Linked DNA regions of Homo sapiens. The protein of the gene in region 1 interacts with the protein of each later gene in a pairwise test. Each region holds a gene or a part of one and is shown in the gene's direction. Other genes may lie near its edges.

Region 1 (3,829 bases):
GCAGGTCCCCAGGACAGGGTCTGTGCCGTGCCAGACATGGGAACTGATACAGGGGCAGGATGTGGCAGGCCTGGCGTCCCCATACCACCAGTGGTGGCCACTCTGCTCCCATGACAGGAAACTACGGCAGGAGGACCGGTCAGTTTCCTCCTTATATAACAGACTTAACACCCTGGGCTTCTACTGTCAACATTTTACACTGGCTGCGGGAGCCGTGGACACAGCTCCCATGGGTCTGGCATGGGGCTGTACCAGTTACTAGGAATGTGTGAATATCTTATTCCTCGGCTCCGTCACCTTGAAGATGGGACTAATAATCTCCTTGGTGGATAATGGTGAGGAAGAAAGGACAGGTTTCCTGGCACAGCAGGGTCAAAAGTGTAGATACATGTTCACACACTCTCTGCACTGTTCCTAGGTGAGTCACCTAACCTCCCTGAGTCTCAGTTTCCTCACCTATACAATGGGGATAATATTAAATCTTCCACACAGGATCAGCATAAGGATTAAGGTAAGGCACCAGGCTAACACTGCCACCACCATCCAAAGTGGCCAATGGATGGGGCCTGGCTCAGTCAGTGTTCACTAAATATCATGTGACCCTTATTTCTGTTCAAGGTCAACGCTAGTGGGTGAGTCTGGGGCCTCCGTGGGCCCACCCCATAGGACCACAGGCCGTCACCTCACGATAATAACAGCTCATGTTCAGACTTCCTGAGTTGAATCTTCCCCTCACCCATTTACCAATAAGGAACAGACAGACACAGGCAAGTTAAAAAGACCGGTGAGGCAGGATCTGAACCCACATGCGCAGCCACGGAGCCATCGTGCTTCTTGATGGCATGTCTTTGGTGGCCCATCAATTAGCTGGGGTGAGGCTCTGGAAGGAGTGCCCTTGCCCCGGCCAAACTGCACAGGGCAGGTCCTGGGTGCTGCGCTTGTGTCCAGGCCGGAGGCTCCTCGCAGGGCACCTGTGCTGAGCCTGTGCTTGCTGGCGTTGCAGACTCCAGGGCTAGAGGAGCTCGAGTGTCGGGCGCTGCACAGTGCCCTTCCTCTCCTGGCTCCCAAGTTCTGACCTGCACTTTTGGAGGAAGTATTTCTCCTCCCCAGTGGGAGGAAAAACAAGTTGCATCTCTTTACAAAGTTAATAGTTGCCATTTGCTTTTTTCCTTTCTCATCTTCTGAATTCGGACTTGTGTATGATTCAGAAGCTTGAAGCTGTGCAACTGGAGCTGGTGACAACTCTGTGCTTTGGCTGTCAGTCTAGAAATGGGAGTCGCCCTCTCTACTTCAGTGATGAGGCTGAAATGAACATTGAAGCCCCTGTCCCAAGTCAGCCCTTTCCTGGCCACGAGCCCCCACTCCCCGGAGCACTGGCTCTCGCCGGGCCCCATGCTTAGGAGTGAGAGGTGGTGCTCAGGAGCCCCCAGCACACCCTATTTTAAAGTTATATCGCTGCTTAGAAATGAAAATAAGACACTTTTATTATTTTTCTCTTGAATTCTGAAAACTTCAAACATGCACTTATTGACAACTGTGCGTTTACTTCATAAATTAGTTCGGGTCACAGACACTTCACCTGAATCTGGTTTTCTTGGGTATTTTAACCTGTCAGAGGCCAACCACAGGTACCTTCCCCCGAATATTGTAAGGTTCAGAAAACAGCTGTCTTGTCCACAGGCGACTTCAGACTCCGGGAGTGGCCTAGCAGGCTGCAGGCCCTGTGTCACCTGGGCTTCTCGGTTGTAAGGCATGCACGCAGGTGCGAGGGGATACCCTAAGGCTCTGTGGCCCAGGGAGAAAATGCCCCATCAGCTGAGAGGAGCCCTAGTCTACAGGAAGCCCAGGCCCCATCCCTCAGCCTAACGGGCCTGCGCAGCAGTAGCCCCCGGGCCTCCAGAACGTCCCGTGGGCCCTTCCCAGTCCCTGAGTGAGTGTGGCCACTGAGACCACCAGAGCCCCCTCTGGTTCAGGACCACCCAGCTTCCTGCTGCTGCTGCTGCTTCGGCTGCTGTGGCCTGCGGGGCTGACCACCCCTCCAGCAGCAGGTATTTAAATGGAAACCAATGGCTGTGAGCCCGTGATGCAGGGTAAGATGTAGGCATTTTAAGGTCATTATTTTAATTACCATTAAAATAATTGGCACTCCGGCTATCAGAAGAATGGAGGCGATCAGAGGCGCAAGGCGCCCCTCCCCCACCTCGGGGCGGGAGCAGCCTTCAGTGTCTGTATAATTAAAAGCTCCGTCTTTCATGAGCACAATAAAGGGGCCGGGGGTGGGCAGACTGCAGCCCTGCTGCATGTTAATGCGTTTATTATGATCAATAAGCCCTTGCCTTGAGTTTTGTCCTCTGGTTTGGGCATCTGCGTGACTGACAGCAGACACACACACACACACACACACACACACACAATTTGCCCAATGGTGTGGACAGCTACAAGTTCAAAATAATTTGGAGGTTAACCATTCTTAGGGTCTCAAAGCACAGCCTTTGGGACTAGACAGGCCTGGGAGGGGTACTGGCTAGCCCTTGGGAGCCATGCGGCTGCGCACCCCTTACTTGCCCCAGCTAAACACCGTTCTTCAGCTCTAACGGGGACAACGGGACCATCTAGTTGCTCTGAGGATGAAGTGCCTTCATGCAGACAGACTGTGGAGTGCGGAGCCTCAGTAAGACTGCTTTCTTGAGAATAACACACCATTCTCTCCCCTGCAGTTACGAGAACTGGTCAGCATGTGCATCTGCCCTGACCCCCACCAGAGACCTGACATCGGATACGTGCACCAGGTGGCCAAGCAGATGCACATCTGGATGTCCAGCACCTGAGCGTGGATGCACCGTGCCTTATCAAAGCCAGCACCACTTTGCCTTACTTGAGTCGTCTTCTCTTCGAGTGGCCACCTGGTAGCCTAGAACAGCTAAGACCACAGGGTTCAGCAGGTTCCCCAAAAGGCTGCCCAGCCTTACAGCAGATGCTGAAGGCAGAGCAGCTGAGGGAGGGGCGCTGGCCACATGTCACTGATGGTCAGATTCCAAAGTCCTTTCTTTATACTGTTGTGGACAATCTCAGCTGGGTCAATAAGGGCAGGTGGTTCAGCGAGCCACGGCAGCCCCCTGTATCTGGATTGTAATGTGAATCTTTAGGGTAATTCCTCCAGTGACCTGTCAAGGCTTATGCTAACAGGAGACTTGCAGGAGACCGTGTGATTTGTGTAGTGAGCCTTTGAAAATGGTTAGTACCGGGTTCAGTTTAGTTCTTAGTATCTTTTCAATCAAGCTGTGTGCTTAATTTACTCTGTTGTAAAGGGATAAAGTGGAAATCATTTTTTTCCGTGGAGTGGTGATTCTGCTAACATTTTTATCTACGTTTTATAACTTGGTGAGTGACGATGAGAGCCCTGCACCTGGCCAGAGTGTCACAGGCAAAAGGCATCGGGAAGCAGGAGCATCTTCTTGGCAGCCAGGCTGGGCCATCTTCTCCTGGACACCTGCTGTGTACCAGGAACTTCGTCACCTCCTTGAATGCTGGCGGTTCATTTCATGATCAGTGTTAAGCATTTTCCTCCATGGGAAGGAAGCATGGGATATAGAAAAGCGAAGGGCTGTCCTTTACAAATTCTGGTTCTGCAACTTCCTAGCGTGACTTTGGGCTTGGGCAAGTTTCTTAGCCGTTCTGAGCCTTCATTTCCTCATCTGTACAATGAGATTAATAGTACCTATCATCTACCTTCAGGATTGCTGACAGACAGAATTTGAAATAAAATATGCAAGTTAGCTAATACAAAAAGTAGATGATCCAAAAATGGTAGCCACTCACCCTTCACAAA
Region 2 (3,530 bases), on another chromosome or scaffold:
CTTTGCTGAAGCTGAAGCATTTCCCCAGTGTCATCTTTGCTGGAGTAGACAGCCCTGGAGATGTTCTTGATCACACCTACCAAGAACTGTTTCGTGCAGGAGGCTTTGTGATATCAGATGACAAGATACTAGAAGCTGTAACATTAGGTTGGTCTTTATTTTCTTTTCCTGTTTCTTTGAAGTCAGATCAACTTCTCACCCAGTGACCTAAATACTGTTTCATCCAAAAGAAATGATCAACTCTAAGGAATATCAGTTGCCCCCTACTGAGGCATAATTTCTGCTGTCTGCTGTGCTCTTTTCATACAGTGATTCTCTTATAGCAATGCTTTTCACCTCTTTTAACTGATTCTTACCACCACACTTGCTTCTGAGTTCCCTCCCTCTCGGTAGTGCAGCTAAGCTCCTAGTAACACAAATTCAGGATTTTATTATATTTAGTCTCTTCACTTGCCAAGTCAGAGCAGCTCCATATTAAATTGTTTGCTTAAAGTCAACCTTCTCCATTTCTGATGTCAACACCCCTACCATCTTGATGTCACAAAAATCTAAAAAATGGCTACTAAGTCAGCTTATTTAATCATCTACTTGAAAACTCATACTTTACTTCTCTCAGGGCACTTTTATGTATAAAACCTGCCCCGGCTCTGATCACATTGGAAGTGATACCACTTCTAGATCAAAAGCAGCATGTACCTTAACCAGTGTGACTTCTACACAGAACCTGGGATTTTAAATATTTGTAGGCACACGTCTGTAATCCCAACACTTTGGGAGGCCAAGGCAGGAGGATCCCTGGAGATCAGGAGTTCAAGACCAGCCTGGGCAACATAGTGAGATCCCATCTCTACAAAAAATAAAAATACTAGCCAGCTGTGGTAGTGTGTGCCTGTAGTCCCAGCTAAGGAGACTAAGGATGGAGGATTACTTGAGCCCAGGAGGTTGAGGCTATAGTGAGCTGAGATCATGCCACCACACTCCAGCCTGGGTGACAGCCGAAACCCTGTCTCAAAAAAAAAGGATTCTGTATTTAGAAACTTCATTTCTCTACTGCATCGGGGCCTCCTGCTTCTCTTCTGTCACACAATTTGTACACAGAACTCTAGTTGCTGGTGACCACTCCACTGTGTTCGTGTCTACAGAGTTATCTCCCACCATAGTGTGAGCAGGTGGGACCAGGCTGAGGGGCTTGTGAGAGCAGGATGCTGCCCAACCACATAAGTGACAGTGATGGTGTGTACTCAACCATGGGTCTTAGTCTGTTTTTTTCTTGTTTTACAAATAATTATCACTGGGCTTGGCATGAGCCAAAAGTACCTTAAACTTGTCATCTTCTTTTGCTACATTTATTGTTTTGTAGTTCAACTGAAGGAAATTATCAAAATCCTGGAAAAACTAAATGGAAATGGAAGATGGAAGTGGTTGCTTCACTACAGGGAAAATAAAAAGCTAAAAGAAGATGAAAGGTAAGGACTTGCTGTGTGTATGGTTCCTCCTGCCCTGCTGGGGTAGCAGAGAAACGCCTCATGTTCCATGGGCTCTAGCCTAGTGCTGCAGTGGAATGGCCTTCATCAGTAAAGAGCATGAGGGCTGCTGGCTCTGTATTCAATGAAGGAAGCTATGTGCTGTGACCGTAGCCAACAGTATGAGGCATGTACTTATCTAGACTAACAGAAGTAAGGGAGTCAAACTTAGCAGTCATGAAATGTCCATATTCTATTTAAGCCCTACTACTACAAACTTTAAAAAATATATGGAACTTGTACCATTAATGCTTTTTTGGATACTTATAAGTTGCCACCACTTTAAGGAGAATGGAAAAATTAAGACCATAATCTATCCTTAATTCAGTTGTACCCTAAAAGAAGAGGCTTATAAATACGCAAACTTCACTAAGTCTAAAGCTGTAATTTATAAAAGAAAAAAATACATGTTTGATTCCTTGGCTGAAGAGAGCTGGGGCTGAGAGATTCCTCCACATTCTCACAAGCAGGACCAATTGGAAAAGCAGACCTGACAAGCCCTTGTGAAATAAGGATTTCAGGCACTGTTAGGTGCATCCATTTTCATTCAGACTTCATCCCCAGGAGCTAGATAGCAAATCCTCACTTTTATAATGCAGAACTGAAGCAGAGTAGATAACAAACATGACCAAGGTCAAACAAGTAGTAAGTTATGAAGCTGGGTTTCAATCCCAGAAAGACGAAACGACTGTTAGCTGTATGTGACCTTTGAGGAACAGAATCTCAGAAAGCTTTTCTCTTGAAGTGGAGCTAGCAAAGGAGAGAAGGAGCACAGAGGTTTCCTTGGCAGGAAAGGAGGGTGCAAAGGCTTCAGCAGGTCAAGGGTATGACCATTCACAGCGGACTTCAGTAACCAGCACTTGAGGGGAAAAACGTCAACTTCGGTAAGTAGAGAAGCACATTTAAGGTTCTGATGTACCACAGCACACCTATAAAATAAGCATAAATCAATCTAGCACTTCTAGGGCTTTGGGTAGAGAAAGTCATGTCACTTAACGACGGGGATACAGCCTGAGAAACGTCATAAGACGATTTTGTCTATGTGCAGACATAGAGTGTACTTACACAAACTGATATGGTAGAGCCTACTCCTAGATTGCAAACCTGTACATGTGACTGTACTGAATACTGTAGGCAGATTTAATGCAATGGTGGTATCTGTGTGTCTAAACACAAAAAAGGTTCAGTAAATTACAGTAGTATAATTTTATGGGACCACCATTGTATATGTGGTCCGTCATTGACTGAAACATCATTATGTGGTACATGCCCGTACTCACTGCTGTTGGCGCTGCAGTATGCTCTTCATATTATACCACTCTGGCATTATGTAACAGGCGTTATGTATTATTGAGAACTCATTAGAAAACTCTTCATATCCTTTGACCTTTTGTGGAATTTACCCAAAATTCTAGGTGGTTATCAGTCATTGCAAAACCAACCTCAGTTCCATCTCTAGGAGGGAGATATGCAGACTACAGTTAAATATTTTAAAGTTTATACAAAATAATGCCCACCCAAAACTTACACAATAGAAGCATGTAAAAAGTTTCTATTCATAGAAAGAGGGATGGCATAAAAGTTGGTATCATGTAACTATGTTCAGTATGATGTCATAAAAAATTTATACAGGAAAAAGTGAAAGGAAATTAATTCATGATGTTAAGAGTGATTATCACTAGGGTTATGGGAATGGGTGTGATTTGGGTTTTCTCCAACAAGCATGAGAATGTAAGTGATGAAAACTAGAGAGACGGGAGTCGAGCAGAGACAGAAATGCTAAAAATTTAAACATACTGAGTTAACACATTTTCCTAGTAGTGATAGAATTTTCAGGGAAGCAAGAAACCAAGAAAATTCTGGCTGCTACCTAATTTTAATGAAGTTGGCGATTATCTGCCCACAAGGTATGAGAAGTATAGATGTGCATTGCTCTACAAATATACAACGCAATAAGGCCCACTCGAAATTCATGAAAGGCTTGCCAAGCCACATGGCTTGATTGGT

The links.
Region 2: the proteins of NEK6 (region 1) and TASOR2 interact in binary tests that used the Homo sapiens proteins (3 or more experiments, as listed by UniProt).

Annotation. Positions count from the first base shown.
Region 1 is NC_000009.12:124,348,120-124,351,948, forward strand, and holds part of NEK6 (serine/threonine-protein kinase Nek6), read left to right. Parts: intron 1-2,717; coding exon 2,718-2,828; 3' UTR 2,829-3,829. UniProt on the Homo sapiens protein: Protein kinase which plays an important role in mitotic cell cycle progression. Required for chromosome segregation at metaphase-anaphase transition, robust mitotic spindle formation and cytokinesis.
Region 2 is NC_000010.11:5,757,527-5,761,056, forward strand, and holds part of TASOR2 (protein TASOR 2), read left to right. Parts: coding exon 1-147; intron 148-1,360; coding exon 1,361-1,466; intron 1,467-3,530.